Regions from separate parts of the Homo sapiens genome. Here region 1 is linked to region 2. Evidence: fine-mapped expression QTL. Tissue or cell type: testis. Region 2 holds a variant in brackets; the other region holds the start of a gene. All regions are shown on one strand. Distances are from middle to middle.

Region 1 (4,391 bases), 31 kb after region 2:
AAACATGTTCTGATGTGTATGTGTGAGACTCTTGAATTTCCCATTGTTGTGTAAAATAAGTGCAAATCAGTGTAAAATAGTGTGAAATAAGTGCAAATAGCTTTATCTTATACAGAAAGGCTTAGGTGAAAGTTCTGTCTGTCTTTAATCTTAAGTATAACATTTGTTTTGGTAATCTTATAAAGATTGCTTCTTGCACATTTTTAAAGAAAAAATGCGAAATTAAATAGATTATGTAACGCTATGGTAGTCAACATACCATATAGTAACTTCTTGAAGGACCCTTAACACAGAATTAAGAAATGCAAAATCGTTATTTTCGTCAAGATAAATTTTGACAGAAATGTAACATTTGAATCTATTCAAATTGTATTTCCAAGTCTAGTGAACCGTAGCAATGCACAAGTTTTATTCAAGAAGGTTGGTGAGTTTAAGAAAACCTCAGGGTGGCCTATGACAATCCAGAAGGCAAGATCAATGTTATTAGAAAATAAATAAATAAATAAATGGTGTTCAAAAATGGTCGGCATAACTCAAAACTAAGATTTTAAAATCAAGACCAGTTGCTCCCCGGTTTCTGCCCATTGCCAAGCTCTTTTGGCTTAAGAACCATAGTTAAAATGAATCCATGTAAATACACAGCACACACCTTTGAAGTAAAGAAAGTAAGTTTAAAGATTAAAAGGAAAAAAGTTTTGGTTACGTGTTTACATAAACTGGGATGTTTACATAAACTGGGAATCACTTAGCACTCATTTTTCTCTTTATCCAATAGATACCACAGATTGTTTTTCTTTCTAAAGGTCAATTTCAAGCTTCCAGCATCATTAGTGAAATGAAACCCATTCGGTAATCACATCGTTAACACTTAAACAGAAGCACAACCGAATTCTTTAGGGGGCTACGGAAAGGCAGCCATCAGCTCTGAGATCTATGAAATGTGGTTGGTAACATCCACGGGGAGTCCGCGCATACACTGCTTTCTGAGAATGCAGAAGTTACTCAGTAAGACCGACAGAAAATCGAACTTTTAGACATGACATGAACAGGGCCCTAAGTAAAACCAAAGCTAAGCCTAGTGTGGGATGACGGCCCCCACCAGACTCGTTACAAGAAGGGGGCGTCAGAGCTGAGACCCTAAGTTTCCAGGAATGGATTCGGTAAGGGGACGAGGAGGGAAGGGACGGCGAAAACCACGCTGGGAGCGGGAGGCAGAGCTGCAAAGGGCGGAGGAGAAAGACGGGCTGGGGGAAGGAGAGGCAGGGAAGCGGCGGGAGAAGTGGAGAGCGGATCCGGGAGGTGATGGGGCCGAGGTAGTGCAGAGAGGGGCGCAGGGACTGAGGAGCAGACGGTCCCCAACCTAGGGCCGAGGCAGGGTCTCGCGGGGAGGAAGGAGTGAGATGGGGCTGGGAGAGAGAAGGGAAGGGGGCGGGTCTTGGTCCCCGGGAGGGAAAGGGGAGCAGGCGAGAGCGGCAGCGGCGGGGCCAGAGAGCCGCCTCTGTTTCCCGATCCACGCGGGCGGCTGCAGAACCCCTGCGGGGGTGAGCGTGGAGACCCCCAGCCGCACTCACCTGCAGCACCCTGCCCCCCGCAGTCGGCGCCCGCCTGTTGCTAGGACGCGGGTCAACACTGCGCGCCCTGCGGCCGCGCACGCCGGCGCCCTTGTGGGAGGCCTACAGGGCCCGTGCCCTCCCCCGGGCGCCGCCGCCGCCGCCTTCCGCTCCCAGCCTCACCCGGCCGCGACCGCAGCCCAGTCCGTTACCCTGGTCTCGGGACCTCCGCGCATCCAAGATTCCCGCGGACCCGTTGCACCGTATGCCCGCGCCAGAGACGCTCTGCGCCCGCGCTGGGTTCCACCCGCCCCGGCCACCTGCTGCTTTCCGCTCGGCCCCTCCCGGGAAACACTTTTATTCAACTTTGCATCTCCCTTTCTCAAACACTTTTATGCAACTCCCGAGTGTGCACCCTAACTCACTCCACGCGGTGGGAAAGGTTGACTTTGACAGAGGTCGTGAGCAGTTGCGGGGTCGGCGGCAAGTTAGCAGAAAACTTAAAATGGAGCAGAAAGGAAGCAGAAAATATTCCTTAGAAACCCCTTTTTACATTTTTCCATAGGCTTCCAGACAAGTGCGTTGTATGTACCTGAAATCTTCACTGAGTACCCCCAAATAGCATAGGGCTTCTCCTAGGATATTTGAGGCTTACATGTTTCTCTCCAAAAAAACAAATATGGTAGAATACTCTGATACTCACCGGGAAAGCAGAAAGCGCTCTTCAATAGGGCAGAGGATCGGAGTGAAATGAAAACATGTCCCCCATCTCTTTTTTTAAATGGCCTTTACCTTTGTCCATTAAGATGGTTTTGACCCCACCTCTAGACACCCTACCAGCAAGAGCCCCAACTGGAACACCAGTGAGGGATAAAGGAGTGGGAATATTGAGGTGGGGGGGGATGGGGAAGAATGCACTATCTTGGGGTGGGGGGACACGGTGTTTAAGGACCAATGCCGGAGCACTTAGGATGATGGGGTGTTTAGGAATTAAAACTGGATTCTTTTCCGGATGCCAAAGAGGCAAATGTGGAATGATGTTAGGATATCACCTGTCATAATATTATACGGATTCAGCTCAAAGCAGAACCTTTCTGCAAACACGTAGGGATATGAGGTATAGATATTTGTCCTTTGTTTTGGGTTTTTTGGAGGGTGGGGGACGAAGTCTGGCTCTATCACCCAGGCTGGAGTGCAGTGGCACGATCTCGGCTCACCGCAACCTCTGCCTCCCATCTCGGCTCACCGCAACCTCTGCCTCCCGGGTTCAAGAGATCCTCCCCCCTCAGCTTCCTGAGTAGCTGGGATTACAAGAATGCGCCGCCATGCCCGGCTAATTTTTGTACTTTTAGTAGAGACGAAGTTTCACCATGTTGGCCAGGTGGGTCTTGAACTCCTGACCTCAAGTGATCCACCCACCTCGGCCTCCCAAAGTGCTAGGATTACAGGCATGAGCCACCATGCCTGGCCTGTTTTGGGTTCTTTTCTTCTCTTTTTGAAAGTGCGAAAGTTGTTAGGAATGGAATAGTTTCACCTAAAGGAGATACTACCTGCAGAGAAGCTTAGACTTGCAACCAGTGAGAAAGGGGCTTATGCTAATAGGTATACAGAGAAGCCCTTTTAAAAATGGGTGGATTACAGTCTGAGACAACAGCATCACACCTGTGGCGGTAATGCAGGTCACAACCTGGTGAGGAGCAGAGGGCATCCTTCGGAAGGATCCTGGAGTAGTCCCAGTCCTGGAAGCAAGGAAGCTTCTGTGGGTACTTTAGTTCCTCTGCACATTTTAATCAGCTGTATGACATAAGGGAGCATTACTGGGTCCAATGTGGATGCCAGCCAGAGATCTTCCAAGTTCAGGACATTTCACCTTGGTTTGCAAAGCTGGAAAAAGCCAGAACCCACCAAGATCTGAGCAACTATGTCGTTGTTTGCCAAATTCATGCCAAGTTGCTTAATCTGATGCCAAAATGTGAATTTATTTTACCGGATATTTTCCAAGCAAAAATAACTTAATAATATTTAAATCTGAAGAAGTCCCAGTCGCCTCTTTCCAATTTTTCCTTGTCGTGATGAAACACTACCTGGGCCCAGTCACTCCCTGAAGGATTTATCATGACTTGTTTTTTTTTTTTCTTTTTTTTTTTTTTGAGACGAGGTCTCATTCTGTCACCCAGGCTGGAGTGCAGAGTGCAGTGACATAATCATAAGCATAGCTCACTGCAGCCTCTGATTCCTGGGCTCAAGTGATCCTCCAGCCATGGCCTCCGAAAGCACTGGGATTACAGCCATGAACCACTGTGCCTGGCCATAACTTGTCTTTGCCTTGTTGCCCATCTGCTACCCCTACAAGGTAAGCTTTATGAAAATAGGGAGCTTTTCTGCCTCCTTCAAGTCTGTACTCCTAAGATCTAGAAGGATGACTGGCACGTAGAAGGAGCTAAATTCATGAATCGCCTAGTCAAAGATGCCTTGCTTCCTGACACTCTTCACCAAGCACCAGAAAGGCAAGGCCCACATTTTCTTAGGGTTAATAGAACCAGCCTGAGGATTCTAAGTAGCCGTGATCTTGGAAAGAGCCTTCATCACTGAGGGCACACCCGGGGTTTGCTGTACCAGAGGCCTTTACCAGCCCTGCCCATGGCTAGAGTGCAAGCACATGGTGCAGCGCTGTCCACTGAAACTTTAGAGAAAATCTGCCACAGGCTCCTGGGAAAAACTTGATAGTTTTTGGTCCACCTCCGCAACATTACGTCATCTACAGCAGGGACCCCACCCACACGCCACACCTTCTGTCAGATCAGCAGTGGCATTAGGTTCTCATAGAAGCATGAACCCTAT
Region 2 (4,391 bases):
GAGTAATAGCTGTTGCTTGGATACATTAAAACTTTACCTTATCTATTACCCTAAGCTAATTCACTAAAAATTGAAATACTTTCGGCCCAATATCTGTTTCAGGAAAGATGAAGTAGATATACTTTTCCCTATTTCTCCCACCAAGCACAACTAAAAATCTGGATATTGTATATAAAACAAACATAAGGTGACTCTGAAAGGCAGAGAAAAAGAAGAGCACTACCTAGGGATCTGAAGACCTGTGGCTCAACACAGCGGTGCATTCCCTGGGTTTTCTTTTTGTCTCATTCTTCCTAGACTGGGTACTGGAAAAGCCGGCAAAGCAGAAACTCCAGGAGGTGCAGGCAAAAAAAGGACCTAAGAAAGTCCTGCTCTGTCTAATTCAAAGGGCCAGAAAAGGAAAGCCTAATAAGACAGAAAATGTTTAGACAACAAATGATCTATCTCAATCAAGACCACACATAACAGCGTGGCCCAAGTCTACCTCTTATAGCAAAGGCCAAGTGAAGAGCCTAGGGCTCTACCTTTATCAGACTGTAAGAAAGCGCTGCAACCCACCTGCTGGGGTGGCCTCAGAGAAGGCCTGACAGGGAGTCAGATGCTCACTACATCGTGGCAAAAATGAAGTCACTTATCCGAACTGTGATATCAGTAGAGCCCACTGACAAAGTAACGAAGGACTCCCCCGTCACACTGTCCGGCTGGTATCAGCAGAGGCATAGGTGGAGCATGAACTCCCACTACCCTCCAGAAATAATGAGGACTCCCTTGCCTGACCCCCCAGGCATCAGTGAAGGCCTATGGGAAAACCTGCTATTTCAATTCCTCACCAGCCTGGAGAAGCAACACATACCTCATCCTGCCAATATGGTGGCAGAGAAGGCCTTCTAAAATAAAAGATTTAGGCCAGGTGCAGTGGCTCACATCTGTAATCCCAGCACTTTGGGAGGCCGAGGCAGGCAGATCACTTGAGGTCAGGAGTTCAAGACCAGCCTGGCCAACATGGCAAAACCCCGTATCTACTAAAAATAAAAAAATTAGCTGAGTGTGGTAGCGCACGCCTGTAATTGCATCTACTCAGGAGGCTGAGGCAGAAGAACTGCCTGAACTCGGGAGGCGGAGGTTGCACTGAGCCAAGATTGTACCACTGCACTCCAGCCTGGGTGACAGACAAGACTCTGTCTCAAATAAATAAATAAATAATTTAAATAAGATCCAGTGTCTCATAATAACCAAAATGTCTACATTTCAACTGAAAATTATTTGTCATACCAAGAATGGGGAAGATCTCATCTTAAATGAGAAAAGACAATTTTAAAATGCCAATATCAAGGTGATGAAGAAGTATGAATTATCTGACAAAGATATGAAAGGCACCATCATAACAATATTTCAACAAGCTATATGAACATGCTTGAAACAAATGAAAAAAATAGAAAGTCTCAGCAAAGAAAGAGAAGATAGAAAAGAAAAACCAAATGGAAATTTTGGAACTAAAAATTATAAGTGAAATTAAAAACTCACTGAATGAAATTAGCAGAAGAATAGGACAGAAGAAAAAATAAATGAACTTGAAGATAGAACAACAGAATTGGCTCAATCTGAACAACGTAGAGAAAAAAATAACTGAAAAAATCAGTGAACGCAGCCTCAAGGAACTGTGAGATTGTAACAAAAGCGCTAATATCCACCACTCTGAAGCTAATAAAAGTGGCTGACCCTTATCTTCCAGACATGTCACTTTTTTTGTCAAACTGAAAATCAAGTAAAAATTTACTAGTTGGCCTCATATTCAATTTTTAATTGTTTTCGTTAGCAATAACATAGACCACTTCAAAATCGGCAGTCTTTTGTGATCAGCAAAGGGAGGCTCAGACAGATACATAACTTTGCCAGGACATGATTGTTCAGAGGCAAGACATCAGTTAAGAGCCCAGTGTTCCTAAACTTAGGTCACTGCTCTTTGCATTAAATACATTTCTTTTCCCACAGTCAACTAATACTAGTAAATCACTGTATTTTGGGTAACTGCATTAGAAGAATATCTTGAAAAAGTATTTAAAGAAATCCAGTGTGACCACTTTTACTAACATTCCTAGTAACCGTCAGTGTAAACATCTGGGGACCCTAATAGGAAGGATGCCATTAATTTGCATGCTCAGTAGCCCACTGCGTGAGGGTGGCTTTAGGGAACTCGTCTTGCTGACCAGAAACATAC[C/T]GAAGTAATTGTGCTCTTCCGTGTGAAACAGATGGTCTTGGTTTTTCAAGTTTTCCTGTGTGTTTGTCCTCTTGGATTTCTTTTGCTGAGCCTTTGCTTTAAAAAAATATACAAATATATTAGCTTTATTGCTTTATGCTAATTAATAAAAAATAAAAGATGGCAATGTAGATATATACTCCGTTATTTCCATGTGCTCAAATGATGCGTGTTCCTGACAAGAGTTCCAGCCTCATTCTGACACTCGGAGCTGTCTCTTTCACTCTTTCAGCACAGCCCTATGTTTTACATATTGAAGAAACTTTCTGTCCAGCACCTAGGAACAGGTCTTCACAGGCTGCCACTGTTGGTGTGAATCCTGCACCCGATGCCTTCTACTCTAGGTATGTATCGCCGCCAATTATAGTTTTCTATTTTCTTATCTTCCCCACCCAACGTTGCAACAGGGCCTGCACCTGGTTTTCCAGGTATTCGCAGGCTTTGCATAGTCCTTGGCATTCTGTGTTCTCCCTTGAATACCTGCTAAGGAATCTCATGCTTGAAAGAGTAAGAATATGGAAAAAGCAGTATTTTAAAACTCACTTGCCAGTTAAAAAAGTTGCCCATGCATTTTTCATTTTCACATTGACTCTTTCAAACAGAGCCACAAAAGTCAAACACCCCAAAATTGATGAGAATCAATCAGAGGAGCCAGTGTCTCCCCTCTCCACATGACTCCGTTCTTCAAACAGCTCTCTGGGTTTGCTTCCAAAACACAATGACCCTGTGATTCCCAGAATCCCTGCAGGAGAAGGTCCCTGTGTGATCAACCAGGAATCAGTTCTTAACCCAAAAATGGGACAACATAGAATATCACCTACAGGCTGCAACTTGTAAACTATTTGTTAAGCTTTAAAAAGTGGGCTGGGTGCAGTGGCTCACACCTGTAATCCCAGCACTTTGGGAGGCAGAAGTGGGCGGATTACTTGAGCTCAGGAGTTTGAGACTAGCCTGGCCAACATGGCAAAACGCCATCTCTACTAAAAATACAAAAATTAGCCAGCCGTGGTGTCACACACCTGTAATCCCAGCTACTCGGGAGGCTGAAGCAAGAGAATCGCTTGAACCTGGGAGGCAGAGGTTGCAGTGAGCCAAGTTTGTGCCACTGCAGCCTGGGTGACAGCGAGATTCTGTCTCAAAAAATAAATAAATAAATAAATAAATAAATAAATAAATAAATAAATAAATCTCTAGGTATTTCTGACTGCCCCAGCATTTACGTAGCATTGGCCCTCAATTTTTGCTTTGACGCCTGTTTATAGAAGGTCCTAAATGGCACTTGTTTTGTATATTTCATACATTCATCAAGCCAGTGTCCACTTTATATAGGTCCATTCATATTTTTGAGACTCTAGCCTTTTCATGGTATTAAAGTTCTGTTAGACATTATCTCTATGACAGTTTCGCTGATTAGCTCCATATAATTTTCATCATTCCACATTCTCCCAGTGCTTACTTAACCAGGTCTCTAGCATGATTTTTACATTTCCCCTGTGACTGCTCCAAGTGTTTTATCATCTTTTCTGCATATTACTTGTCCTGACTCACCAACTATATAAAAGTGAATTGTGTTCTTCTCTTCCCTTCACAGTGCTCCACACATAAACTCTATCAAATCTTTCTGCTTAGAATACAAAGAGGAGCAGAAAGGAATCAACCTGCGCCTTGGAGGGACATGTAAATATATATTCAATATTTTTCTATTATAAAATAAAGTTCTGGCCAGACGCAGTGACTCATGCCTGTAATCCCAGCATTTTGGGAGGCTGAGGTGGGCAGATCACTTGAGGTCAGGAGTTTGAGACCAGTCTGGCCAACATGGTATAACCCTGTCTCTACTAAAATTACAAAAAATAAAAAGTTAGCCAGGCGTGGTGGCATGTGCCTGTAATCCCAGCTACTCAGGAGGCTGAGGCAGGAGAATCACTTGAACTCAGGAGGCAGAAGTTGCAGTGAGCTGAGATGGCACCACTGCACTCCTGCCTGGGCAACAGAGCAAGACTCCATCTTAAATAAATAAATAAATAAATAAATAAATAAATAAATAAACAAACAAACAAAATAAAATAAAATAAAGTTCTGTGAAAAATTAGGTGAGTATGGTTACTAATGCTGCATCTGAAAACAAATGCAA

Direction of the effects. Alleles are on the strand shown, and positions count from the first base shown. SD is a standard deviation of normalised expression in the study named.
For the expression in testis of the gene that starts at base 1,848 in region 1, T is the low allele of the variant in region 2 and C is the other (small effect, 0.22 SD a copy in GTEx).

What was found.
Region 1: it holds the start of ODAD2, and the variant in region 2 is fine-mapped to the expression of ODAD2 in testis (GTEx, PIP above 0.99).

The regions. Positions count from the first base shown.
Region 1 is chr10:27,997,232-28,001,622 of GRCh38, forward strand. It overlaps ODAD2 (outer dynein arm docking complex subunit 2), which reads right to left and starts at 1,848. Exons shown (of 20, transcript NM_018076.5): 1 at 1,763-1,848.
Region 2 is chr10:27,966,705-27,971,095 of GRCh38, forward strand. ODAD2 (outer dynein arm docking complex subunit 2) reads right to left here. Exons shown (of 20, transcript NM_018076.5): 9 at 2,219-2,314. Among named protein-coding and RNA genes, the nearest start is that of ODAD2, 30 kb to the right of the region's middle. The variant C/T (reference allele first, on the strand shown) is at 2,219.